Linked DNA regions of Homo sapiens. The protein of the gene in region 6 purifies or fractionates together with the protein of the main gene of each other region. This does not show direct contact. Each region holds a gene or a part of one and is shown on either strand. Other genes may lie near its edges.

Region 1 (3,500 bases), on a different chromosome or scaffold from region 6:
CACTATTTCCTGGTCTAAAACACAGGTGCCACTTACCTGATAGGGGCTGCTTTGAGGATTCAGTTACATAACATTTGTTAAAAGCACAGAGCAGGCTGGGCATGGGGCCTCATGCCTGTAATCCCAGCACTTTGGGAGGCCGAGGCAGGCAGATCATCTGAGGTAGGAGTTCAAGACCAGCCTGGACAACATGGCAAAACCCCATCTGTACTAAAAATACAAAAATTAGCCAGGTGTGGTGGTACGCACCTGTAATCCCAGCTAACTGGGAGGCTGAGGCAGGATAATCTCTTGAACCTGGGAGAGGGATGTTGCAGTGAGCCTAGATTGGGCCACTGTACTCCAGCCTGGGCAACAGAGTGAGACTCTATCTCAGGAAAAAAAAAAAAAAAGCATGGAGCAGTGCCAAAGACAGAGTGGGGGCTCAAAAAATACTGGTTGCTGTGATTAAAAGGGCAGCCTCCTGGAGCTACTGTCAAAAGCAGCAACTTCCAGGGTGGCCTTCAGGCCTTCAACAAGGGAGCTGGTCCAGGCTCTATTAAGAGGCAGGACAGTACAGGGGAGAGGCCAAGGTCTTGAATCCTAACATTTCTTTTAAAGAGCTTAACTGAGATCTAATTCACAGATCATACAATTAACACAAATTCTGTAGTTTTTAGTATATCCACAGATATATGCAACCATCATCACCGTTAGTCAATTTTAGGACATTCTCATCAGTTTAAAAAGAAAGTGCTAAAATAAAGTACCCTTTAGCAATAATCCCGTCCTTCCCCCAACTCCCCAGCCCTAGGCAACCACTAATCAATGTCTCTATAGATTTCCCTATTCTGACTTAATGGAATCATATCATATGTGGTCTTTTGTGACCGGTTTCCTTCACTTAGCACGTTTGCAGGTTCATCCATGCTGTAGCATGTATCAGCACTTCATTCCTTTTTATAGGTGAATAGTATGCTATTGTATGAATAGACAACATATCATTTATCCACTTATCAGTTGATTGGCATTGGATTGTTTCCACTCTTTGGCTTTATGAATAATGCTTCTATAAAACTCACACATAAATTTTTGTGGGGGCCCATATTTTCATTTCTCTTGGGTAGACACCTAGGAGAATTGCCAGGTCACAGGTACTGTTTGTTTTCTGTAAGACCAGGCAAATGACTTTGCTCACAGCCTCAGTCCCTTCCTTGTAAACAGGGATACCGCCACCAGCCAGCTTGTAGATAATGGATGCTTGGTCATATTTGTTGACTATGGTGAAACTGGATATAGTGTACCACAAACCTTTTCCTGTTCAGGATGAACTTTCAGATCCATGCACATATCCAGAAATTGAGAGAGGAGAGCCTGGTCCAGAAGGATATACACAGCAACTCCCTGTTTCCTGCATATTTCTTGCAGGTCTCTGAAGATGTCGATGTCTGTGAACACGTCCATGACCACTGCAATCACCTACAGGTGAAACAGGGAAGAGCACATGATAAGCTTATAGGACACCACCTTACAGCACGCTCTCTGGACTCTGGACTCCACTCAGAACTGGGAAATGATCCCTATCCAACAGTTATCCTTCCCTCCCCCTTCTGCAGTGTTGGTGCCCCCCTCACCATGGACTCTTTTGCATCTCCAAAGACACTTGGGCCCCGTGTCCTAGAAATCTTGACTTGGCCTAGCTAACACTCCCAACTCCATGCTGGGAGGTTTCTCAAAAATACAGATCAATCCACTGCCTTGCTCTCTTATGAACCTGCTCCATTCACCTTCTATTCCTCCACTAAACTCCTGTCTTACAGGCTTATTCAGATCAGCAAGCTGTCTGGTTCTGTGGGTAACACACTGTCATCTTTGGCTTGTTGCTTTCCCCACCAGGCTTCAGTTTGCTGTCCGTTAAACAAGTAAATAAAACCTCAGATTCTCTCTGAGGGCCCTTCTGGAGGGTAGCATTCTCGAAATCTATTTTTTAAATTATTGTCTGGTTTTGAATCATAATCTCTGACTTTTTTAAGGCCTGTCCCATTCACCACCAACTCATGACTCGAAAGCAATCGAAGCAGGCCCATGGATTCTCCCTTCTTCTGCCTCCCTAACACTGCATACCATATTTGTTAACATTCTGTTCTTTCTACCAGCCAGGCCTGATCAGCTGTCTGTTGGGCAGGTTCTAACCAAATGACTTCCACTGCACTGGCCTCTCCTCAGTAAAAGGTTCTCTCTGCAGTTCTTTGGTATCCGTCCATAGTGCAAGCCCACAGCAAAGAACAGGGAAATATTTCCTAAGGATTCTGCCCTTAAGCTCAGAACAGGCCTTTCTTCTCCCCAACAACATGGCTCCATTCATGCCTCCCAAGTGATTTTCCACACCTAGCATCAGACTACAATTAAGAGCTACCTTTTAGCCATGCATTCCTGGGCAAATTACAGCTGTTTCAAATGTCTGTTTCCTTAGCTGCAAAATAGGGTTGTATCGAGAACTAAATGACTATGTTACATAAAGTGCAAGGTACAAAGGATCCCTTAGTATCTGCTCGTTTATTCACTTTACCAGTCCAGAGCTGGAGCCGTCCAGACAGTTCAACACAGGGAGACACCGCCTAGCTTTCCTCGCTCTTTTAAAGACAGGCTGCTCCTGCCACAATGCCTCTAATCACACCTTTTGCAGGCTTAAAACCAAGGTCCTCAGCAAACTCCTGGCAGGGCAGTGGGGGTGTCCAAACCTCCAGGCTTAGAAACAGGTCCTGACAAACTGAGTCAGAAGTTGGGGGTGTTAACTAAGGAAGCCGAGGCTTGGGGGCTCTTCTGTAGTCTGGAGATATAAGGGTTTCTCCTTCCTCCCCATTTCCACAGTAAAAGCCTGTCTCTCAGAATCACATTAACTCTTTTTCTGAAAGTTAGGATTATTCATTTATGGGTTTCACTCCTTCTCCTGCAGCAAAGGCTCTTGAATGGGATTGAGTCATTTCTGTGGTCCCAGAGGACTTAGGACAGTATATGACAGTCATGACTCCTTAAGGATTTGGGGGATTAAAGAAGGAATGAAGAGGCAAAAAGGCAATTTGGCTGTCTTTCTCCAACACTCCAGGGCCTGGTCTACTAGGATGTGAGACCCTGAAACACCAGTTCCTGGGAAGTCATTGCTGTGAGGGGGTTGAGAAGACCAGTTACTCTCCTGCTGCCTTTCCCACCCCACCCCTTTTAATGATGGTCTAAGCTGTGGGCTATTCTTGGTAAAGGGCATGGCTGAAACCCACTGAACACAGTGATTTAAAAAATGAGAAGCGTTCTTTCTGAATTTGTGGCATCCTCTGAAGTTTACATCCTCCACTGGCTTTACACATCCTATTTTGACAGTTCTATTCATCCCACTCATTCGGGTCATACAACAGGAATTAAAGGCAAAAGTTCTGGGCATAGAACCCAGCTCTACCACCTACCAGCTGTGTGACCCTGGGCAAGTGGCTTAATCTCTCTGAGCCTCAGTTTCCTCCTCAGGAAGA
Region 2 (3,500 bases), 8.2 Mb from region 6:
TGCCCATGACCTTGCTGAAGAAGCTGGCCAGCAGTGGGTTGAGGCTGCCGGTGCTCTGCAGGAAGCCGTAGAGCCGGTTCAGAAGGGACTCATCAGCACCCAGGGCATCATTGATCTGGGGCACATCTGAGGTCAGAATCTCGCAGGCCACACTGGGGTACCTGGGAGGCAAGCACAGGCGGGTGGGGGCTCGGGTCGGAGGCCGGGGGCAGGGGGCGGCAAGGCTCCACCCTCTTCTCTGCACCGGGCACTGGGTTTCTGGGAACTGCAGAGACCCCTGTCCAGGAAGGGGAAAGGGCAGAGGACAGGGTGACGCAGAAACAAGGGCCCACACCAGGCCTCCTCCACCCTGCTAACACCCAACCATCCCATCCTAGGCTCCTTACCACCCCCAAGACAAGCTGGTCCTGAAGCTCCTGCGCTTCCCAATCCCCCAGCAGCTAACACTCATCCCTTTTGCCTCTCAGCGGCTTCACTTGCAACCCCGTATGCTGCCCCAGCTCCGGCTGACTCCTGGAACCTTGCTCAACTTCCAACCTCACCTCCTGCCTCCCTCCTCCAAACTTTCACACGGTGCCTGACGGCTCCAAGACAAGAGCTGCCCCACCAGCGTGCCACTCAAGGCCCTGAGGGGCCACAGTCTGCTCCAGGACTGTGGGGAGGTACCCCTTGGGAGGCTGAGGCAGGCATATCACTTGAGGTCAGAAGTTCAAGACCAGCCTGGGCAACATGGCGAAACCCTGTCTCTACCAAAAATACAAAAATTAGCTGGGCGTGCTGGCTTATAGTCCCAGCTACTTAGGAGGGTGAGGCAGGAGAATCACTTGAACTTGGGAGGAGGAGGTTGCAGTGAGCCGATCATGCCTCTGCACTCCAACCTGGTGATAAAGTGAGTCTCAAAAAAAAAAAAAAAAGTGTCTTTTCAGCATCGCTTGGATTAAAAAATAAGTAAAGTGTCTTCAATAGCAGACAAGTGTTTCACAAACATACAAAAAAAGTTTAATAAAAAGTAAATAAAATAAAAGGCGGCGAATAAAGAGAAAAACCAGCCGGGCATGTCGTCACATGCCTGTGGTCCCAGCTACTCGGGCAACTGAGGCGGGAGGATCACCTGGGCCCGTGAATTTGTGGCTGCCGTGACCCGTGACTGTGCCACTGCCCTCCAGAGCACAGGCTTGGTCTGCACCCGGTGAGCTGTGAGGCCTTGTGCAGGAGCCTGGCTGCTCCCAGCCTCGTCTTCCTCATCCCCAAACTGGAGTTTACTGACACTGACGCATTTCAGGGTAGCTGTGAGGCTTGCGTAGTGAAGGTATGTGTGATGCTGATAGGGACGGGCTGGCCAGGAGCTGGGGAACTCACTTGTAGCGCAGCCGCTCCTCACCGCTATCTGGCGGCTCCTGGGTGACCCAGGCCACCATTGCTTGCAGGTGGGGTGGCTGCAGCAGGAAGTCCAGCAGCTTGCGGTTGACGACCTTGCACTCCTGCAGCACGTCTTCCTCGTCCAGCAGCTCGGGCAGGCTCAGGTCCTCCCGCTCCAGCAGCGTGTCCAGGTGCGAGCTTGTGTGCAGGTCAAACTTCCAAAACATGGCGCCCTGCAGGCATAGACACAACCAGCGCCGCGTCAGACGCCCCAGGGAGTCCCCACTGGACGAGGCACTGACCACAGGGGCTGAGTGCCCACCTTGGGCACAGCCTCTCCCCAAGTCCCAGCCCTCTGCCTCATGCTGAGCCCGGCCCCGCCCCGGGACTGCCCGCAGGCTCACTGCCTCCATCACTCAGGCTTAAGGCTCCCAGTGAGCACCAGGCTCCTGCAGTTGCCCTCGAGCCTGCCCCTCTTCCCCCATCTCCAGCCTCCCGGCCGCCTCGCCTGAGGTCCAGGGGGTCATTTCACACCTGAGGCCTCAGGCCTGGTGAAGTCCCCAGGTGTGGACCATGTGCAGGGCCTGCGAGAAGAGGCTGGACCCTGTGCACTGAGGGGCCTCGGGCCCTGTCTCCCCATGAGGGTCTGGGTCCACTATCCCTACTTTTGGGAGAGACACTGCAGAGGCAGGGCCTTAACCTCTGGCTTCAAATTTGCTTCAACCTGTATTTGCTCAACAAACTCAGATGCCCGATGACTTCCAGCACACGGCTGCTGCTTGGCCCAGCAAATCCCCCAAGGCTACGTGGGAGGCATGGGGCGGCGGCAGGGGGAAGAGAGGAAGTCTGTGCATCTCCAGGCTGTGGCCGTTGCCTGGACACCACTCACACACAAACACACCCCAACCATCCTCTCACCCAGCACCTGGGCTGGAACAAGGAAGAGGAAAAGTTGGAAGGGAGGGGCTCCCAGAATAGTCACTGACCAGGACCTGAAGGAACCCAGGGTGGGATAGACAGATTCTGTGGGGGAAGAACAAAGCTGGCAACACCCGGCCCTGACCCTGTCCCCATCTGGAGCTGGCTCCCGCCCTCTGGAGGACAGTGCCTGGTTCCTCAGCCTGGTTCCAGCCCCTAAACGCTCGTGCATGGGAACTCACTGGCAATAAGGAAACACACACAGAGTATTAACAAGATGCCAGGCAACTCCATTCTGAGCCCCTGCCCTGTACTACATCACTGCTCCGCAGAGCCCTAGAAAGCCTCCACACAGACCTTCCACTACAGACCTGACCTGTGACCTGTGCTCTGGGCACTTGATGACAATGGTCCTGGCTCTGCATGTGTGCTGTGCACATGATGTCCAAGCTCACCAGCAGCCCCCAAGAAAGCTGTCATCACTCCGCCACACAGGACAAGGGGCAACCAAAGCCCGGTAAGTCAGGCGGCATCCTGGAATCTCGAAGGCCATCTGGTCCCAGCAGACAGCCTTCACGGAGCTCTCACCAGTTAAGACACTGACCAGAGCTCACGCTCATTACCTGCCTCCTGACAACCGCATCACCAGCTAAGGCAGAGGCCACTGCTACCCCCAAGTCACTACAGAGGATGCTGAGAACAGAGCAGAGCCGGCACAAGAGGCCAAGGGTGCCTCTCCCGCAGGCCCTCACCACCATCACTCCCAGGCACAGATGCTAGTCCCTCTCCTCCAATGCCCTTCTGCAGCTTCTTCCAGTTCAGTCATTCCCTCTGCACAGGCCTCCACCATCTCCTCGAGCCCTGCTGACCTGTCACCTCAGTGCCCACCAGCCCCCAGGCCTGACTCAGCCCCAGGCCCCAGGGAAGAGACAGGGAGACGTGGAGCACCAGGCCCAGGGAAGAGACTTCATCGGAGCTTAGGAGAGCAGCCTGGGCTGACAAAACGCAGGACAGAGTCCCACACATGGCCTCAGGCAGGTCGAACGCCTCTTGGGCCTCCTTTCCTCTCCTTCCTGGCTAGCTTGAAGCCAGGCCAGCCTGGGGCCAGGATCTCCTTGCTCATCCACCCTGACCACCCTAAGGCTGGGCTCAGCACAGAAGGTTGCAGTCCAGACCTTGCTCCCAGTCTGCCCGTCTGCCTCGGTAACTCTAGATTGGCAACA
Region 3 (3,500 bases), on a different chromosome or scaffold from region 6:
TACCTGTAATCCCAGCACTTTGGGAGTCCGAGGTGGGCGGATCACCTGAGGTCAGGAGTTGAAGACCAGCCTGACCAACATGGTGAAGCCCCATCTCTACTAAAAACACACACACACACACACACACAAAATTATCCCGGGAGGCGGAGGTTGCAGTGAGCCTAGATTGCACTATTGCACTCCAACCTAGGCAACAAGAGAAAACTCTGTCTCAAAAAAAAAAAAGAAAAAAAAAGGAAAGTTTATTACTGAATGAATCCATAGATGGATAATGCTCTCTCAGGCTGCCTTCTGTCAGTATCCTGCTATAACCACAATGTGCTCAAGAAAAAAATATTAGCAGGAGCCAAACAGACTTAGGAAAGTCACATAATCGTGTTGCTTTTTTGGTAGTTTTTTCCAGTAGTAAATTAGGGATGGAATTATTATAAATGTGTACATTTGTTAAACAGACATTATTGAGATATTTATAGATTAAAAAAAATTTTTTTTTGAGACGGAGTTTCGCTCTTGTTGCACAGGCTGGAGTGCGATGGCATGATCTCGGCTCACCGCAACCTCTGGCTCCCATGTTCAAGCAATTCTCCTGCCTCAGCCTCCTGAGTAGCTGGGATTACAGGCATGTGCCACCACGCCTGGCTAATTTTGTATTTTTAGTAGAGATGGGGTTTCTCCATGTTGGTCAGGCTGGTCTCAAACTCCTGACCTCAGGTGATTCTGCCCGCCTCAGCCTCCCAAAGTGCTGGGATTACAGGCGTGAGCCACCACGCCCGGCCTGGCTAATTTTTTTTTTTTTTTTTTTGAGACAGAGCATCACTCTGTCGCTCAGACTGGAGCGCAGTGGCGCGATCTTGGCTCACTGCAACCTCCACCTCCTAGGTTCAAGCGATTCTCCTGCCTCAGCCTCCCAAGTAGCTGGGACTTACAGGCGCGAGCCACCACGCCCAGCTATTTTTTTTTTTTTTTAAGATGGAGTCTTGCTCTGTCGCCCAGGCTGGAGTGCAAGTGGCATGATCTCAGCTCACTGAAAGCTCCGCCTCCCGGGTTCATGCCATTCTCCTACCTCAGACTCCCGAGTAGCTGGGACTATCGGCGTCCGCCACCATGCCCGGCTAATTTTTTGTATTTTTTAGTAGAGACGGGTTTTCACCATGTTAGCCAGGATGGTCTCCATCTCCTGACCTCATGATCCGCCCCCCTCAGCCTCCCAAAGTGCTGGGATTACAGGCATGAGCCACCGCGCCTGGCCTGAGATATTTATATATTCTAACATAATACATTATTCTAAAATCGTAAGAGTTTATGTAGAAAAACTTTTGCTAACTTTTTGTGTGCTTTTAAATTTTTTTGTAGAGATGGGATCTCACCATCTTGCCCAAGCTGGTCTTGAACTCCTGGGCTCAAGCAACCCTCCTGTTTCACCCTCCCAAAGTGCTGGGTTTACAGGTGTGAGCCACCACACCTGGCCCTTTTGATAACTTAAAAAAATTTTTTTGGAGACAAGTTCTTGCCCTGTCACTCAGGCTGGAGTACAGTGATGTGATCATGGCTTACTGAAGCCTCAATTCCTAGGCTCAAGTGATCCTACCACCTCAGCAGCCTCCTAAGTAGCTGGGACTACAGGCATGCACTACCACACCTGGCAAATTTTTTTATTTTTAGTAGAGACAAGGTCACACTATGTTTATAGATTTTTGTATTTATTATTTTTTTTTAGAGAACAGGGTCTCGCTATAGTGGTCAGACAGGTCTCCCTAAGTGCTGGGATTACAGGCGTGAGCCACCACACCAGGCCACTTTTTAAAAATTAAAAATAGGCCAGGTGTGGTGGCTCACGCCTGTAATCCCACCACTTTGGGAGGCCAAAGTGGGCAGATCATCTGAGGTCAGGAGTTCCAGGCCAGCCTGGCCAACAGCGCAAAACCCTGTCTCCAGTAAAAAATATAAAAATTAGCTGGGCATGGTGGCGCGCACCTGTAATCCCAGCTACTCAGGAGACTGAGGCAGGGAGAATCGCTTGAACCCAGGAGGCAGAGGTTGTTGCAGTGAGCCGAGATCACACCACTGCACTGAAGCCTGGGTGACAGAGCAAGACTCCATCTCAAAAAAAAATAATTAATTAAAATTAAAATTAAAAATAGAGTTGCAGGCCAGGTGTGGTGGCTCACACCTATAAACCAGCACTTAGGGAGGCAGAGGCAGGAAGATAGCATGAGCCTAGGAATTTGAGATCCGCCTGGGCAATATAGCAAGACCCTCTTCTCTAAAAAAAATTTAATAAGTAAGTACAAAAATAAATAATAAGTAAAAAAATAAAAAGAGAATTGCAAACATTTTTCAAAGGTTTCTATTACAATAAATCTGTCTCAGAATCTTTTTTTTTTTTTTTTTTGAGACAGGGTCTCCCTCTGTCTCCCAGGCTTGGAGTGGAGTGGTGTGATCTTGGCTCACTGCAGATTCGACCTCCTGGGCTCAAGTGATCCTCCCACCTCAACCTCCCGAGTAGCTGGGACCATAGGCATGCACCACCGTGCCTAATTTTTAAAAATTTTTTGTAAAGACATGGTTTTGCCATGTTGCTCAGGCGGGTCTTGAACTCCTGGAGCTTAATGGATCTGGCTGCCTTGGCCTCCCAAAGTGCTGAGATTACAGGCGTGAGCCATCACACCCGGCACACAAAATCTTAAATAATGATACCAAAGGCAGATTTAAATGATTTTTGAGTTACCCTTTAGTTTGAACTCAACACGTTCTATTTCTTTTTATTATAGGGTATGTCTATATGCCACAGACATACATATAACTGCAGAACTGACAATATTTTGTGTTGTTTTTCTATATCTAATATGACCTATCAATTATGATTAGCCTATGAGATCCCTGAAAGCAAAAACTCTTTCTTTTTTGAGACGGAGTCTGGCTCTGTCGCTCAGGCTGGAGTGCAGTGGCACGATCTCGGCTCACTGCAACCACCACCTTCCAGGTTCAAGTGATTCTCCCGCCTCAGCCTCCCAAGTAGCTGGGATTACAGGCACTTGCCACCACGCCCAGCTAATTTTTATATTTTTAGTAGAGACGGGGTTTTGCCATGTTGTCCAGGCTGGTCTCAAAATCCTGATCTCAGGTGATCCGCCCGCCTTGGCCTCCCAAAGTGCTGGGATTACAGGCATGAGCCACCATGCCCAGCCAGCAAAAACTCTTTCTTCCTCTCTTTATATCTCACTCATCAGAGCCCAGCATGGTACATGATAGGTAGCAATTTAATTTCCTTGTGCTTACTTGGATAAGATATGATGGTCGACAAGGATGAGGGTGAGTTGGCCAGCCTGGTATAATGCATGGAGGTCAATCTCATCCCGAAAAATCAAGATACTCTCTGGAATATGAACCTTCTGAAGAAAGAAGACAATGTCACCTCGCAGAGGTAGTTCAGAACGTTTTATATTTAAAACTGGCACAAAGACTTCCTCAGCCTCAGTTGTCTAGATAGGAAAGTGAAA
Region 4 (3,500 bases), on a different chromosome or scaffold from region 6:
CAGGCTGGAGTGTAGTGGTACGATCTCGGTTCACTGCAACCTCTACCTCCCGGGTTCAAGTGATTCTTCTGCCCCAGTCTCCAGAGTAGCTGGGACTACAGGTGCGTGCCACCATGCCCAGCTAATTTTTGTTTTTTGTTTTAAGTAGAGACGGGGTTTCATCATGTTGGCCAGGATGGTCTCGATGTCTTGACCTCGTGATCCACCTGCCTCGGCCTCCCAAAATGCTGGGATTACAGTCATGAGCCATCGCACCTGGCCATTGTTACCATTTTTAAACTACTGCAGAGCTACAACCTTCCTATTTAGTGAAATATTTTATAAATGTCTGTGTATATATATACACTGAAATGGCTGAAAAGACTTGATTCTGCCTGTAATCCCAGCTACTTGGGAGGCTGAGGCACGAGAATCATTTGAACCTGGGAGGCAGAGGTTGCAGTGAGCCGAGATTGCACCATTGTAGTCCAGCCTGGGTGACAGAGCAAGACTCCATCTCAAAAAAAAAAAAAAAAAAAAAAATTTGATTTCCAAGGTAACTTGGAAACATCAGTTATCCTAATAACTGATAATTATTAATTACTGATACAATTACTAATAATAGGTGTATTGCTATTGAACACACGGTATCCCCCAGTGTGTTAAATAGCAATACCTCTGAGAGTACATGCTGTTTCATATTCCATGTTGTAAAATAATTTGAAATATATACACTTTTTTCTCTTTTTTAAAGACAGGATCTTACTCTATCATCCAGACTGGAGTGTGGGAGTGCGAACATAGCTCACCGCAGCCTCGAACTCCTCGGCTCAAGTGATCCTCTCACTCCAGCCTCTCGGGTAGCTGGGACCACAACAGGCATGCACCATCATGTCCAGCTAACGTTTTTACTTTTTGTAGAGATGGGGTCTCACTGTGTTGCCCAGGCTGGTTTCAAACTCCTGGCCTCAAATGATCCTCTCGCCTTGACCTTGGGATTACACACATGAGCCACCATGCCTGGCCTGAAATATATTCTTAAAATTAAATCTGAATCAAGTGTTGATGGAATCTAACAAGCACTTCTCTGGGATAGTATTTATAACACCTTCTACAAGACAGAACTAATAAAATGTAGCTTGCTTACATCTGAAGAGGAAGTGACTTTTCAAACAATGAATTGAAAAAGATGATAGCTAAAAACAATAAAGAGCCTTCTTCCTAGGGTGGAATATTGATATTTTATGTCTTTCAGTAAAGAAGGCAGTAGGTCTTTTCATGGTTCCACCTTTTAAGATTCAGGCATTTTTAGTATATTCACAAAACTGTACAACTATCACCACTATCTAATTCTAGAACTTTTTTTTTTTTTGAGATGGAGTCTTGCTCCGTCACCCAGGCTGGAGTGCAGTGGCGCGATCTCGGCTCACTGCAAGCTCCGCCTCCTGGATACACGCCATTCTCCTGCCTCAGCCTCCCGAGGAGCTGGGATACAGGTGCCCATCACCATGCCTGGCTAATTTTTTGTATTTTTTTAGTAGAGACGGGGTTTCACAGTGTTAGCCAGGATGGTCTCGATCTCCTGACCTTGTGATCCGCCCGCCTAGGCCTCCCAAAGTGCTGGGATTACAGGCGTGAGCCATGGCGCCTGGCCATTCCAGAACATTTTTATCACTCCCAAAAAGAAACCCTGTATCCATAAGCAGCCAATCCCCATTTCAGCTTTTCTCAGCCCCTGGTAACTACCAATATACTTTCTATCTCTATGAAATGGTCTATCCTGGACACTTCATATAAATGCAATCATACAATATATGGCATTTGGGGTCTGACTTCTTTCACCTGGCACAAGGTTGTCAGGTGTACTCATGTCATATCATCTATCAAAACTTCATTCCTTTTATTTTATTATTTTTTACATGTAAAGAGAGACAGGGTCTCTCTATGGTTCCCAGGCTGGTCTCAAACTCCTGATCTCAAGCAAACCTCCCAGTTCAGCCTCCCAAGTAGCTGGACTACAGGTATGCGCCACTGAGCCTGGCTGAGAACTTCATTCTTTATTATTGCCAAATAATGTTTCATCATACGGGAGCAGTCTTTTCTTTGGCCATTCATCAGTTGATGAGATATTGGAGTTGTTTCAACTTGTTGGCTGCTATGAATAAAAAATGTGTATATAAGTTTCAGGGTCTAAATACATTTTTTCTTTTCTTCCTTTTTTTGAGACAGGGTCTCACTCTGTCACCCAGGCTGGAGTGCAGTGGGACGATCATGGCTCACTGCAGCCCTGACCTCCTGGGCTCAAGCCATTCTCCCACCTCAGCCTCCTGAGTAGCTGGGACTATAGGCACAGGCATGCACCACCATGCCCAGCTAATTTTTCTTTTTTTTTCTTTTGGCAGAGATGGGGTTCCACCATGTTGCCCAGGCTAGTCTTGAACTCCTGGGCTCAAAGGATACGCCTGCCTCGGCCTCCTAAAGCGCTGGCATTACAGACATGAACCACCGCATCTGGCCTAAATATATTTGTTATTCTCTTCTATATATACCTAGGAGTGAAATTTCTGGATCATATAGTAAACCTATGTCTAATATTTTAAGAAACTGCTGAACAGTTTTCCAAAGCAAATGCACTATTTACATTCCTACAAGCAATGTCTAAGATTCTATTATTGTCTGTTTATTGTTACAGACATCCTAGAAGTGGTATCTCACTGTGATTCTCATTTGCATTTCCCTAATGACTAATTATGTTGAGCACCTTGTCATGTGTTTTTTGGCCATTTGTGCATCTTTTTTAGAGACATGCCCATTTGATGGCTGAATTATTTGTCTTTTTATTACTGAGTTCTAAGAGTTCTTTATATATTCTGGACATAAGTTCTTTATTAGATGTACACTTTGCAAATGTTTTCTACCATTCTGTGAGTGGTCATTTTTCACTTAATTGACAGTGTCTTCTGAAGCACAAACGTTTTTACTTTTGCTGAAATCCAAATTATCCGTTTTTCCTTTGGTCTCTTGTGCTTTTTGTATCATATGTAGCAAATCATTGTCTAAACCAACGTCACAAAGATTACTTTTACGTTGTCTTCTAAGAGTTTTGCAGTATTTGCTATTACATTTAGCTCTCTCATCCACTTTCAATTCATTTTCGTACATGATGTGAAGTAGAAATCCAACTTCATTATTTTGTATGTGGATATCCAGTTGTCCCAGAGCTATCTGTTGAAAAGACTATTCTTTACCCATCAAAAAGCCTTGGTGCCCATGTCAAAAATCAAACATATACATATATTAATATATATGCAAAGGTTTATTTCTGGACTCTCAAGTCCATTGAGCTAGATGCCTATCTTTTTTTTTTTTTTTTCTTTTTGACAGGATCTCACTCTGTCGCCCTGGCTGGAGTACGGTGGTGCAATCACAGTTCACTGCAGTGTTGACCTCCTGGACTCAAGCGATCCTCCCACCTCAGACTTCCGAGTAGCTGGGGCTATACGCATGCACCACCATGCCTG
Region 5 (3,500 bases), 6.3 Mb from region 6:
GGCATGAGAGTCGTTTGAACCCGAGAGGCAGAGGTTGCGGTGAGCCAAGAACACGCCACTGCACTCCAGCCTGGGCGACAGAGCAAGACTGTCTCAAAAACAAAAAAAAAACAAAACAAATATAGGAAGACTAAAAGAGAGAGATACAAAGTAATGATGAAAAGAAAAAGATGAACAGAAGTAGACAAAGAGAGAGAGAACAAAGGAAACCACAAAAGCAGCGGGTACGATGGCTTACGCCTGTAATCTCAACACTGGGAAACCAAGGTGGGAGGACCACTGAGCCCAGGAGATTGAGGCCAGCCTGGGCAATATAGCAAGACCCCATCTCTACAAAATGTTTAAAAATTAGGCCGGGCGCAGTGGCTCATGCCTGTAATCCCAGCACTTTGGGAGGCTGAGGCAGGCGGATCATGAGGTCAGGAGATTGAGACCATCCTGGCTAACACAGTGAAACCCCGTCTCTACTAAAAATACAAAAAATTAGCTGGGCATGGTGGCGGGCACCTGCAGTCCCAGCTACTCGGGAGGCTGAGGCAGGAGAATGGTGTGAACCTGAGAGGCAGAGGTTGCAGTGAGCCGAGATTGTGCCACTGCACTCCAGCCTGGGCGAGAAAGCGAGACTCCATCTCAAAAAATAAATAAATAAATAAATAAAAAATTAAGAATCAGCTAGGCGTGGTGGTGTGCACCTGTAGTCCCAGCTACTCAGGAGGCTAAGGTGGGAGGATCACTTGAGCCCTGGAGGGTGAGGCTGCAGTGAGCAGTGATTGTGCCACTGCACTCCAGACTGGGTGACCCAGTGAGACCCTGACTCAAAAAAATAAGAAAGAAAGAAAGAAAACCAGAGAAGCAAATAGAAAACAGGGTTTTCGTTGTATCATGCCGACTAAACTATGAGCTTTTTGAGACAGGGTTAGTGTCTGATTCATGAACACATACACACACAGGAATACATTCTGCACCCCACAAGCATGTCAAGTCCCTTAGCAAGTACTGGAAGAGTGGGTCACCTCCAGAGAAGGAAACTGTATGGCTCATCCCTCTCCTACCCCAGGATCAGGGACGTGTTCATCTCTCCCGCCCCCTCAGAGCCCAGCTACCTCACAGACATCTCTTTGACAGTGGGAAGGTTAAGAGGGAGTCAGGGTTCGGGAAGGGCTAGTCCCTCCCCAATCCAGCTGCCGGCCCTGGGGAAGAGATGATTAATAAAGGTTCCTGTTTACTAAGTACCTGGAACATTCCAGACACAATGACAAAGACTCAGTGTGCCACAACCTACTTAATTTCTAAAAACACAACCCCAGGGAGATTATCGTCTCGGTGTTACAAAGGAGGAAACAGAGGGTCTGAGAGGTGAAGCCACTTACCTAACATCACCCCACACAGCGCTGGGGTTCTAGCTCTGGTTGGATCCCAGTGCCTTGGGGCTTATCCCCTACACACTTGCTGGACTACAAGCTCATGATGGCAGAGACTGGGGTTGTCATGGTTATGATTATGTCCCCAGCACATGGCCTGGCACACGACAGACGCTCCAGAAACATTCTTTGATGCTTGGACTGAAGAATGTTAGTTGGGATTTTTTTAATAGTAATTTTTTTTTTTTTTGAGACAGGATCTCACTCTGTTGCCCAGGCTGGAGTGCAGAGGTGTGATCTTGGCTCACTGCAACCTCTGCCTCCCAGGCTCAAGCAATCCTCCTGCTTTAGCCTCCCGAATAGCTGGAAAACAGGCATATACCACCACATCTAGCTAGTTCTTTTTTCCTTTTAGTAGAGATGAGGTCTCACTGTGTTGCCCAGGGTGGTCTCAAATTTCTGGGCTCAGGCAATCCTCCCACCTCAGCCTCCCAAAGTGCTGGGATTATAGGCATAAGCCACCACACCTGGCCCCTTAATCATAAACATAATATCTTCTCTCTCTGTTTTATGTTAGATCCGGGCCGGGCACAGTGGCTCATGCTTGTAATCCCAGCACTTTGGGAGGCTGAGGTGGGTGGATCACCTGAGGTCAGGAGCTCAGAACCAGCCTGGCCAACATAGTGAAACCCACTCTCTACTAAAAAAAAAAATTAGCCGGGCGTGGTGGCGTGCGCTTGTAGTCCCAGCTACTTGGGAGGCCGAGGCAGGAGAATCACTTGAACCCGGGAGGCTGAGGTTGCAGTGAACTGAGATCTCGCCACTGCACTTCAGCCTAGGCAACAGAGTGAAACTCCGCACTGCACGCCCTCCAAAAAAAAAAAAAAAGTTAGATCCAATGGTTTATCTGGGCTTTCTCGGATTTTTTTCACAATGGTCTCAGCTTATATGCCCCTTCCTCCAGGAAGCCCTCTCTGATACCCTGTGTCTGGCCAGTGACCTCCTTCTGGGCTCACACATCCTCCTGACCACTCTGAACTGTGACTGTCGGCTGATTGGTCTGTCTCTTTCATGGGCCTGGGAGCTCCATGAGTGTCTTGGTCACTGCTGTTTCCCCAGCAAAGCTAACATAGGACCAAATACATGGTAGGGGCTTAGGGAGTGATTTTTGTCTCATTAGAAGAATAGGATAGCACACCTGTAATCCCAGCACTTTGGGAGGCTGAGGCAGGAGGATCACTTGAGCCCAGGAGTTCAAGACCAGCCTGGGCAAGATAGCAAGACCCCATCCCTACCAAAAAAAGAAAAAGAAAGAGAACACAATTTTAAAAAAAGGACAGGATGGTGAGAAGGAAGGAAGGAGGAAAGGGAGAAAGGAAGCTGAGCCTTTACGGTCAGAGAGGATTTCAAAATTAAGGGAGAAGGAAGCACGGGTATGCTGGGCAGTGGGAACGGCTTGAGCAATGCGTGGAGGCAGGACAACAGAAGAGTGTTCAAGGAACAGTGTGTACTCAGGCCTAGTTACAGCAGAGGGGGTCAGGAGGAGGGAAGGAAGTCGATTCTGGGAAGGCGCCTGGAGACCGGAGGCTCCAAACGCAGCACTGAGCCCCTGACTGCTCTCAGAGAGGGCACCTGAGCAGACAAAGCTGGGCCATGGAGGCAGATTCTGGAAGGATGAGAAAAAAACTGGAGATAGGGAGGCCTGGGAGGGAGACAAGTTAGGAACAGATCTACACACTGGAGGGTTTAAACGATGGGTTTGAAACTCAGCCAGAACTGAGTTAGAATCCTGGCTCTGACTTGACGTGGCCAACCCTAAGCAAAGAATCTCTCACCTCTCTATGCCTCAGCTTCCCCATCTGTTGTTTTTGTTTTTTTTTTTTTGAGACCGAGTCTTGCTCTGTCACCCAGGCTGGAGTGCAGTGGTGCAATCTCGGCTCACTGCAACCTCCGCCTCCCACATTCAAGCGATTCTCCTGCCTCAGCCTCCCAAGTAGCTGGGATTACAGGTGCCCGCCATCACACGCCTGGCTAATTTTTGTATTTTAGTAGAGACAGGGTTTCATCATGTTGGCCAGGCTGGTCTTGAACTCCTGACCTTAGGTGATCCCCCTGCCTCGGCCTCCCAAAGTGCTGGGA
Region 6 (3,500 bases):
TAATCTATGTAATCAAAAGAATTGAAAACAGGCGTTGTAGCATGTACATGCGTGTTCATAGCAGCATACTTCACATCATTCAAAAGGTGGAAAGCACACAAATGTCCAACTCATGAATGAGTAAATAAAATGGGGAGGCCGGGCACTGTGGCTCACACCTGTAATCTCAGTGCTTTGGGAGGCGGAGGTGGGTGGATCACCTGAGGCCAGGAGTTCAAGACCAGCCTGGCCAACATGGTGAAACTTTGTCTCTACCAAAAATACAAAAAATTAGCTGGGTGTGGTAGCATGTGCCTGTGGTCCCAGCTATTCGGGAGGCTGAGGAGGGAGAATTGCTTGAACCCGGGACGTGGAGGTTGCAGTGAGCTGAGATCCCACCACTGCACTCCAGCCTGGGCAACAAGAGTGAAACTGCATCTCAATAATAATAATAATAATAAATAAAAATACTAAGGCCGGGTGCAGTGGCTCACGCCTATAATCTCAGCACTTTGAGAGGCTGAGGTGGGCAGATCACCTGAGGTCAGGAGTTCGAGACCTTCCTGGCCAACATAGTGAAACCCTGTCTCTACTAAAACTACAGAAAAACTAGCCGGGCGTGGTGGTGTGCACCTGTAGTCCCAGCTACTCTGGAGGCTGAGGCAGGAGAATCACTTGAACCCGGGAGGCAGAGGTTGCAGTGAGCCGAGATTGTGCCATTGCACTCCAGCCTGGGCAGCAAGAGCAAGACTCCATCTCAAAAAAACAAAAATAAAAACAAAAACAAACAAACAAACAAAAACTAAAAAAAAAAATAGACATGGAGAGACAGAGGAAAAGAGATGCAGAGAGAGACAGAGATGGCAACTGAGACCAAGACAAAGTGAGACCTGTGCCCCCTGCCCCATCCTCCCTACAGTCAGGAGCTAGGACCCTGGACCTTGTGCTGGGGGTAGGCAGAGACCTGGGGGTCCCGGAGCCTGTCCCCACCCAGGACCCCTGGGTGACCCTGACCCTGCAGAGGACAACCCCCGAGGGAGCTCCAACCCAGTGCTGAGAGTGGGGAGCCAGGGGAGAGACTTGGTGACCTTGAGGGTCCCCAAGTGCCTTTTTCCTATGGGGCTAAGGGGCCAGGTCTCCTGTCAGGCCCCAGCGCTTCCCCTCCCTGGCTGTGTGCCCTGGGACCAGCCTCTCTGCCGCTCTGTGCCTCAGTTTCCTCCTCTGTCAAGCGGGTTTGCCAGGAGCGGTGACTCCCCAGGCTGGTTACGCATTCAGTCCACTTAACAGACAGAAGGGCCTGGCTGGGGCCTGGCAGAAGCAGATGCTGCAGCACAGAGCCGGGACTGGTATTAATAGTGTGATTACTATTGTTATTACCCGACCATCAAAACACCAGGCGGCGAAACCCCGCCCCTCCCCCATGGGCGCGCAGCCCCCGCCTCCCCAGCCCCCTAGTGTCTGGGCTGAGCTTCCTCCTCCCAGGAGTACCCCACACCCTCCTGGCTGTTCCTCCCTGCCTCCACCTCCGCCTGGAGCTCCAGGAACAATTACTGGGGGGCTGGGGGGTTGACGGGGACCCCCTCCCTCAAGATACAGCTCGGAACCAGCCGGGTGACAGGCAGGAACAATGCTGCCTGCTAATTGTCGCAATTTTCCCCTGTCATTTTTGCTAATTCCTTCATTTTCCCTCTCCCAGGATCAGCCTGGGTCAGACTGAACCGCTGCAATTAACAACATTAATGGGCACGTCGGGATTAGGGGGTGTGGTGGTGGGGGGGCTTGGGGACCTGCTCTTCCCCATACACGGGTCCGGTCCCCTGTGAAAGGGACCCCCAGAGTCTCCTGATCACTGACTGATGTGTCTTTTTACCCCCAGCCTCCACCTCCCGATCCCACCAACTCCCCGATGCCTCCCGCTGTTTCCTCCTCTCCCTCTCCCCTCAAAATGTCCCCACTCCTCTGTCCCCCACATTCAGCAGGAGACTTTTCACCACTTCCACATCCGCCCTCCCATGTCCAGAACCCAAACATCACTCATCCATTTAACAAACACTTGCTGTGGTTCTTATCACAGCCTGCTCAGTGTCCTCATCTCTTGCGCAGAGAGGGAGCACGAGGAGCAGAGAGACGGGAGACCAGGGGCAGAGAGAAGGGGACCAGGGGCAGACAGACAGGAGACCAGGGGCAGAGAGAAGGGAGACCAGGGGCAGACAGACGGGAGACCAGGGGCAGAGAGACGGGAGACCAGGGGCAGAGAGACGGGAGACCAGGGGCAGAGAGAAGGGAGACCAGGGGCAGACAGACAGGAGACCAGGGGCAGAGAGAAGGGAGAACAGGGGCAGAGAGATGGGAGACCAGGGGCAGAGAGACGGGAGACCAGGGGCAGAGAGACGGGAGACCAGGGGCAGAGAGAAGGGAGACCAGGCGCAGAGAGAGGGGGACCCAGGGGGCAGAGAGAGGGGGAAACCGGGTGCAGAGTGTGGGGGGACCTGGGGCAGAGAGAGGGGGGACCTGGGGCAGAGAGAGGGGGATCCAGGGGCAGAAGGCAGAAGCCAAGGCCTCTTCCAAGTTCCCAGATCTCCCCCGTCACCTGCCCTTCTCAACTGCCCTGAAGGAATGTGCTGACCCTGGGTCCTGGAGAGAAGAGGCTGGGGCTTCATCACCCAGGGAAGTCGGGGAGAGGGGTCCCTCACATGCCCCATCGTCAAAGCGCCGCAGGCCTGAGGGCTGCATGGGGGCAAGCACCATGGGGTGGGGCAGTGCCGGGTCACCTTTGCCTTTACTTTCCTCAGCCTCATCTGTAAAATGGGTCTACAGTGATAGAGTTGAATGGGCTAGTGCATACAGTAGGTGCCTAATACTGGGAGTCATGCCACCATTCTCTCTCTCTCTTTTTTTTTTTTTTGAGACGGCATCTAGCACTGACACCCAGGCTAGAGTGCAGTGGCAGGATCTCAGCTCACCGCAACCTCTGCCTCCTGGTTCACGTGATTTTCCTGCCTCATCCTCCCAAGTAGCTGGGAGTACAGGCACCACCACCATGCCCGGCTAATTTTTGTATTTTTAGTTGAGACGGGGTTTCACCATATTGGTCAGGCTTGTCTTGAACTCCTGACCTCAGGTGATCCACCTGCCTCGGCCTCACAAAGTGCTGGGATTACAGGTGTGAGCCACCGCCCCGGCCGCACTTTTCTTTTCAGTATGACTACAGATAACATCAGGGCACCACTGCCTTTTCGGGCGGTTTCTTGGAGGCCGCCCTCTGTGTCTCTCACACCCACATGCATTTTAAGCAAGTCCCAGGGGTTGGACCTGACCATGTCACCTGTGTTCCACCACCCATGGCCCCAGCCCAGTCTAGCTGCCCTGGCTGGACCACCACGTCCTCATCCTCACTGGGCTCCTACTTCCGCCCTCACCACCTCTGTGGCTCCCCTCTCACTGTGGGTAACAGCCAAACCCCTACCACAGTGCATGAGGCTCTGCACCCAGCAAGCTGATCCCCACCTGCCTCAGGGCCT
Region 7 (3,500 bases), on a different chromosome or scaffold from region 6:
GCAGGCTGCTAGAAAAATCCAGGTGAGAGGCCAGGCGCGGTGGCTCACGCCTGTAATCCCAGCACTTTGGGAGGCCAAGGCAGGACGATCACGAGGTCAGGAGATCGAGACCATCCTGGCTAACATGGTGAAACCCCATCTCTACTAAAAATACAAAAAAATTAGCCAGGCATGGGGCAGGTGCCTGTTCTCCTGGCTACTTGGGAGGCTGAGGCAGGAGAATGGCATGAACCGGGGAGGCGGAGCTTGCAGTGAAGCAAGATCATGCCACTGCACTCCAGCCTGGGCGACAGAGTGAGACTCCGTCTCAAAAAAAAAAAAAAAAAAGAAAAGAAAAAAGAAAAATCCTGGTGAGAGACCGCGGTGCGCGGTGGACTGGACGTAGAGACCAATGGTGTTGGAGGGGTGTTCACTGACAACTTTGACATTGATCAGTGTTACATTTAGAGAGCCACTCACTTTGAAGATCCCTTCCTCAAGGTGGGTGTAACAGTCTACCTGGGGTAAGGAAACCCCTCAGAGGGAGTGGTATCAGTACTGAATTCAGTTTAGCAAACCTGCTTTAGAACCCTGTGCCTGTTCAGGGGTAGGTATAAAACATGCCAGTCCTCAAGGACTTCCTGTGGGGAGACATGGGGCACATTATTCCCATTTCACTGATGCAGGCCTCTGTGGCATTGTGAGGCGTTTGCCAGGCAGCAGTGGCAAAGCAGGAATTTGAACTCCCTTCCAACTTGCAACTAGTGAATATTTGGGTTCAGGTTAAGCCGTAGAGAAGCAACAGAGGAAGGTGGGTTTCAGTTGGGTGTGGAAGGGATAAATTGAAGGAGCCTTCCCGGAGGAGGCAGATAGAAGGGAGGGAGCCAGCCAGCCGGGCGTGGTGGCTCACGCCTGTAATCCCAGCACTTTGAGAGGCCGAGGCGGATGGATCACGAGATCAGGAGATCGAGACCATCCTGGCTAACACGGTGAAACCCCGTGTCTACTAAAAATACGAAAACAAAAAATTAGCCGGGCGTGGTGGCGGGTGCCTGTAGTCCCAGCTACCTGGGAGGCTGAGGCAGGAGAATGGCGTGAACTGGCGAGGCGGAGCTTACAGTGAGCCGAGATAGTGCCACTGCACTCCAGCCTGGGCGAGAGAGCGAGACTCTGTCTCAAAAAAAAAAAAAAAAAGAAGGGAGGGAGGGAATCAGCCAGAGATAGTCCAGGGCAAACCCTGGCCCTGCCTGCTCCTGGCTGTGGCCTTGGGCATGGTTATGGTTTTGAGACTCGACTTCCCTATCTGTAAAAAGGGCTCATGATAGGATACTCCCATTCTCAAAAGGTTCTTATGTGAGTTTACTGAAGCAGTGTATGGACAGTGCTAGGCCCCGTGTCTATGCTCTGTAAGGGGTGGTATGATTATTATCACTATAGCCTGTCATCAGGATAAGTTCCAGGTGGGTGGTGCTTTGCTCAACCTGGTGTGTGCCTGTGTGTGTTGGGGGGAGAGAGGGAGTGACCCACAGGTGATACTTGAGTCTTAAAGGATGAGTAGGAGGGAGGGCTGGGACATTCCAGGCAGAAGCAACAGCACTGGCAAAGGCATAGATCGCCTGGAGAACTGCATGCCAACTGATATACCCAGAATTCAGGATGTGCTGAATGAATAAAAGTTAGACCATGGGCAGCAAAAATTCCTTTTATACCCCAGACACTCCCTGAATTTCTAAACCTGAAGGCTTTGGCAGGTTTGGGACAGAGAGGAGGGCAGGAGCATCCCTGTCCAGGAGTTCACTCTCCTTCTTCCACTCACCCATCCAGATTATAGGAGTGTGAACCTAGATAAGCCATGTCCCCCCGGGACCTCAGTTTCTTCCTCTGTAAAATGGGAGGACTGGGGAGAATGTAGGTAAAGCACATAGTGCATCAGAGCTGCGCTGTTATGCCAGAATCTGGGCTAAGCTCTTTTGTTCCTTTTTTTTTTTTTTTTTTTTTTTGAGACGGAGTTTTGCTCTTATTGCCCATGCTGGAGTGCAATGGCAGGATCTCGGCTTACTGCAGCCTCCACCTCCTGGGTTCAAGTGATTCTCCTATCTCAGCCTCCCGAGTAGCTGGGATTACAGGCATGTGCCACCACGCCTGGCTAATTTTGTTATTTTTATTAGAGACAGGGTTTCTCCATGTTGGTCAGGCTGGTCTCGAACTCTCGACCTCATGTGATCCACCCACCTCGGCCTCCCAAAGTGCTGGGATTACAGGCACCCGGCCTTTTTTTTTTTTTTTTTTTTTAATATTTTACAACAAACCCAGGTGGTGCCTGTTTTTGAGACCCTCGACTTTACAGTTCATGAAACTGAGGCTTCAAGAGGTTATTGATGTGCTGCGAGGTCACGCAGCGGGAAAGTGGAAGAGCTGGGATTTGAACCCAAAGCTGTCTGCCTCAAAGCCATGCCCTTCCCACTTGCATGGCTCCCAACACAAGGAGGGGTGCTTCTGCCTAGTCTCACTACTCAAACTGCTGCCATTTAAGAAGAAGCTAAGGCCAAGCACAGTGGCTCCTGTCTGTAATCCCAGCGCTTTGGGAGGCTGAGATGGGAGTATTGCTTGAGCCCAGGAGTTTGAGACCAGCCTGGGCAACATAGCGAGACTGTCTCTGAAAAAACAATTTAAGACCGGGTGAGGTGGCTCACGCCTGTAATCTCAGCACTTTGGGAGGCTGAGGTGGGCGGATCACCTGAGGTCAGGAGTTCGAGAGCAGCCTGGCCAACATGGTGAAACCCCGTCTCTACTAAAAATACAAAAATCAGCCAGGCGTGGTGGTGGGGCACCTGTAATCCCAGCTACTCGGGAGGCTGAGGCAGGAGAATCCCTTGAACCCCGGAGGTGGAGGGTGTGGTGACCTGAGATCATGCCATTGCAATCCAGCCTGGGTGACAGAGCAAGACTCTGTCTCTTAAAAAAAAAAAAAAAAAGGTTAAAAATTAGTCTGGCGGTCAGGCACAGTGGCTCACACCTGTAATTCCAGCACTTTCGGAGGCAGAGGCAGGTGAATCACCTGAGGTCAGGAGTTCAAGATTAGCCTAGCCAACATGGAAAAACCCTCTCTCTACTGAAAATACAAAACAAAACAAAAAAATAGCCAGGTATGGTGGCACATGCCTGTAATCCCAGCTACTTGGGAGGCTGAGGCAGCAGACTGCTTGAACCTGGGAGGTGGAGGTTGCCCTGAGCCGAGATTGTGCCACTGCACTCCAGCCTGAACGATAGAACAAAACTTCGTATCAAAAAAAAAAAAAAAAAAGAAAAGAAAAGAAAAAAAATTAGCCTGGCAGTGTGTCAGGCTGTGTCCCATCTAATTCAGAGGCTGAGACAGGAGCATTGCTTGAGCTCAGGAGTTCGATGCTGCAGTGAGCTTTGATTGCACCACTGCACTTTAGCCTGAGACAGAGTGAGTCCTTGTCTCAAATAAATAAATACATAAATACATAAAAATTTAAAAAATTAAAATTAAAAATAAA

What was found.
Region 1: the proteins of NPAS1 (region 6) and FAM83D purify together in Homo sapiens (affinity purification with mass spectrometry; 2 studies listed by BioGRID and IntAct, with this or other methods). This does not show direct contact.
Region 2: the proteins of NPAS1 (region 6) and PPP6R1 purify together in Homo sapiens (affinity purification with mass spectrometry; 2 studies listed by BioGRID and IntAct, with this or other methods). This does not show direct contact.
Region 3: the proteins of NPAS1 (region 6) and PRUNE1 purify together in Homo sapiens (affinity purification with mass spectrometry; 2 studies listed by BioGRID and IntAct, with this or other methods). This does not show direct contact.
Region 4: the proteins of NPAS1 (region 6) and PSD3 purify together in Homo sapiens (affinity purification with mass spectrometry; one large-scale study listed by BioGRID and IntAct). This does not show direct contact.
Region 5: the proteins of NPAS1 (region 6) and ITPKC purify together in Homo sapiens (affinity purification with mass spectrometry; one large-scale study listed by BioGRID and IntAct). This does not show direct contact.
Region 7: the proteins of NPAS1 (region 6) and KIAA1671 purify together in Homo sapiens (affinity purification with mass spectrometry; one large-scale study listed by BioGRID and IntAct). This does not show direct contact.

What each region holds. Positions count from the first base shown.
Region 1 is NC_000020.11:38,939,917-38,943,416, reverse strand, and holds part of FAM83D (protein FAM83D), read right to left. Parts: intron 1,459-3,500; coding exon 1,291-1,458; intron 1-1,290.
Region 2 is NC_000019.10:55,245,518-55,249,017, forward strand, and holds part of PPP6R1 (serine/threonine-protein phosphatase 6 regulatory subunit 1), read right to left. Parts: intron 1,593-3,500; coding exon of another isoform or gene 1,587-1,592; coding exon 1,360-1,586; intron 162-1,359; coding exon 1-161. UniProt on the Homo sapiens protein: Regulatory subunit of protein phosphatase 6 (PP6). May function as a scaffolding PP6 subunit. Involved in the PP6-mediated dephosphorylation of NFKBIE opposing its degradation in response to TNF-alpha.
Region 3 is NC_000001.11:151,018,449-151,021,948, reverse strand, and holds part of PRUNE1 (exopolyphosphatase PRUNE1), read right to left. Parts: intron 3,483-3,500; coding exon 3,280-3,482; intron 1-3,279. UniProt on the Homo sapiens protein: Phosphodiesterase (PDE) that has higher activity toward cAMP than cGMP, as substrate. Plays a role in cell proliferation, migration and differentiation, and acts as a negative regulator of NME1. Plays a role in the regulation of neurogenesis.
Region 4 is NC_000008.11:18,874,204-18,877,703, forward strand, and holds part of PSD3 (PH and SEC7 domain-containing protein 3), read right to left. Parts: intron 1-3,500. UniProt on the Homo sapiens protein: Guanine nucleotide exchange factor for ARF6.
Region 5 is NC_000019.10:40,720,112-40,723,611, reverse strand, and holds part of ITPKC (inositol-trisphosphate 3-kinase C), read right to left. Parts: intron 1-3,500. UniProt on the Homo sapiens protein: Catalyzes the phosphorylation of 1D-myo-inositol 1,4,5-trisphosphate (InsP3) into 1D-myo-inositol 1,3,4,5-tetrakisphosphate and participates to the regulation of calcium homeostasis.
Region 6 is NC_000019.10:47,026,337-47,029,836, reverse strand, and holds part of NPAS1 (neuronal PAS domain-containing protein 1), read right to left. Parts: intron 1-3,500. UniProt on the Homo sapiens protein: May control regulatory pathways relevant to schizophrenia and to psychotic illness. May play a role in late central nervous system development by modulating EPO expression in response to cellular oxygen level.
Region 7 is NC_000022.11:24,955,716-24,959,215, forward strand, and holds part of KIAA1671 (uncharacterized protein KIAA1671), read left to right. Parts: intron 1-3,500.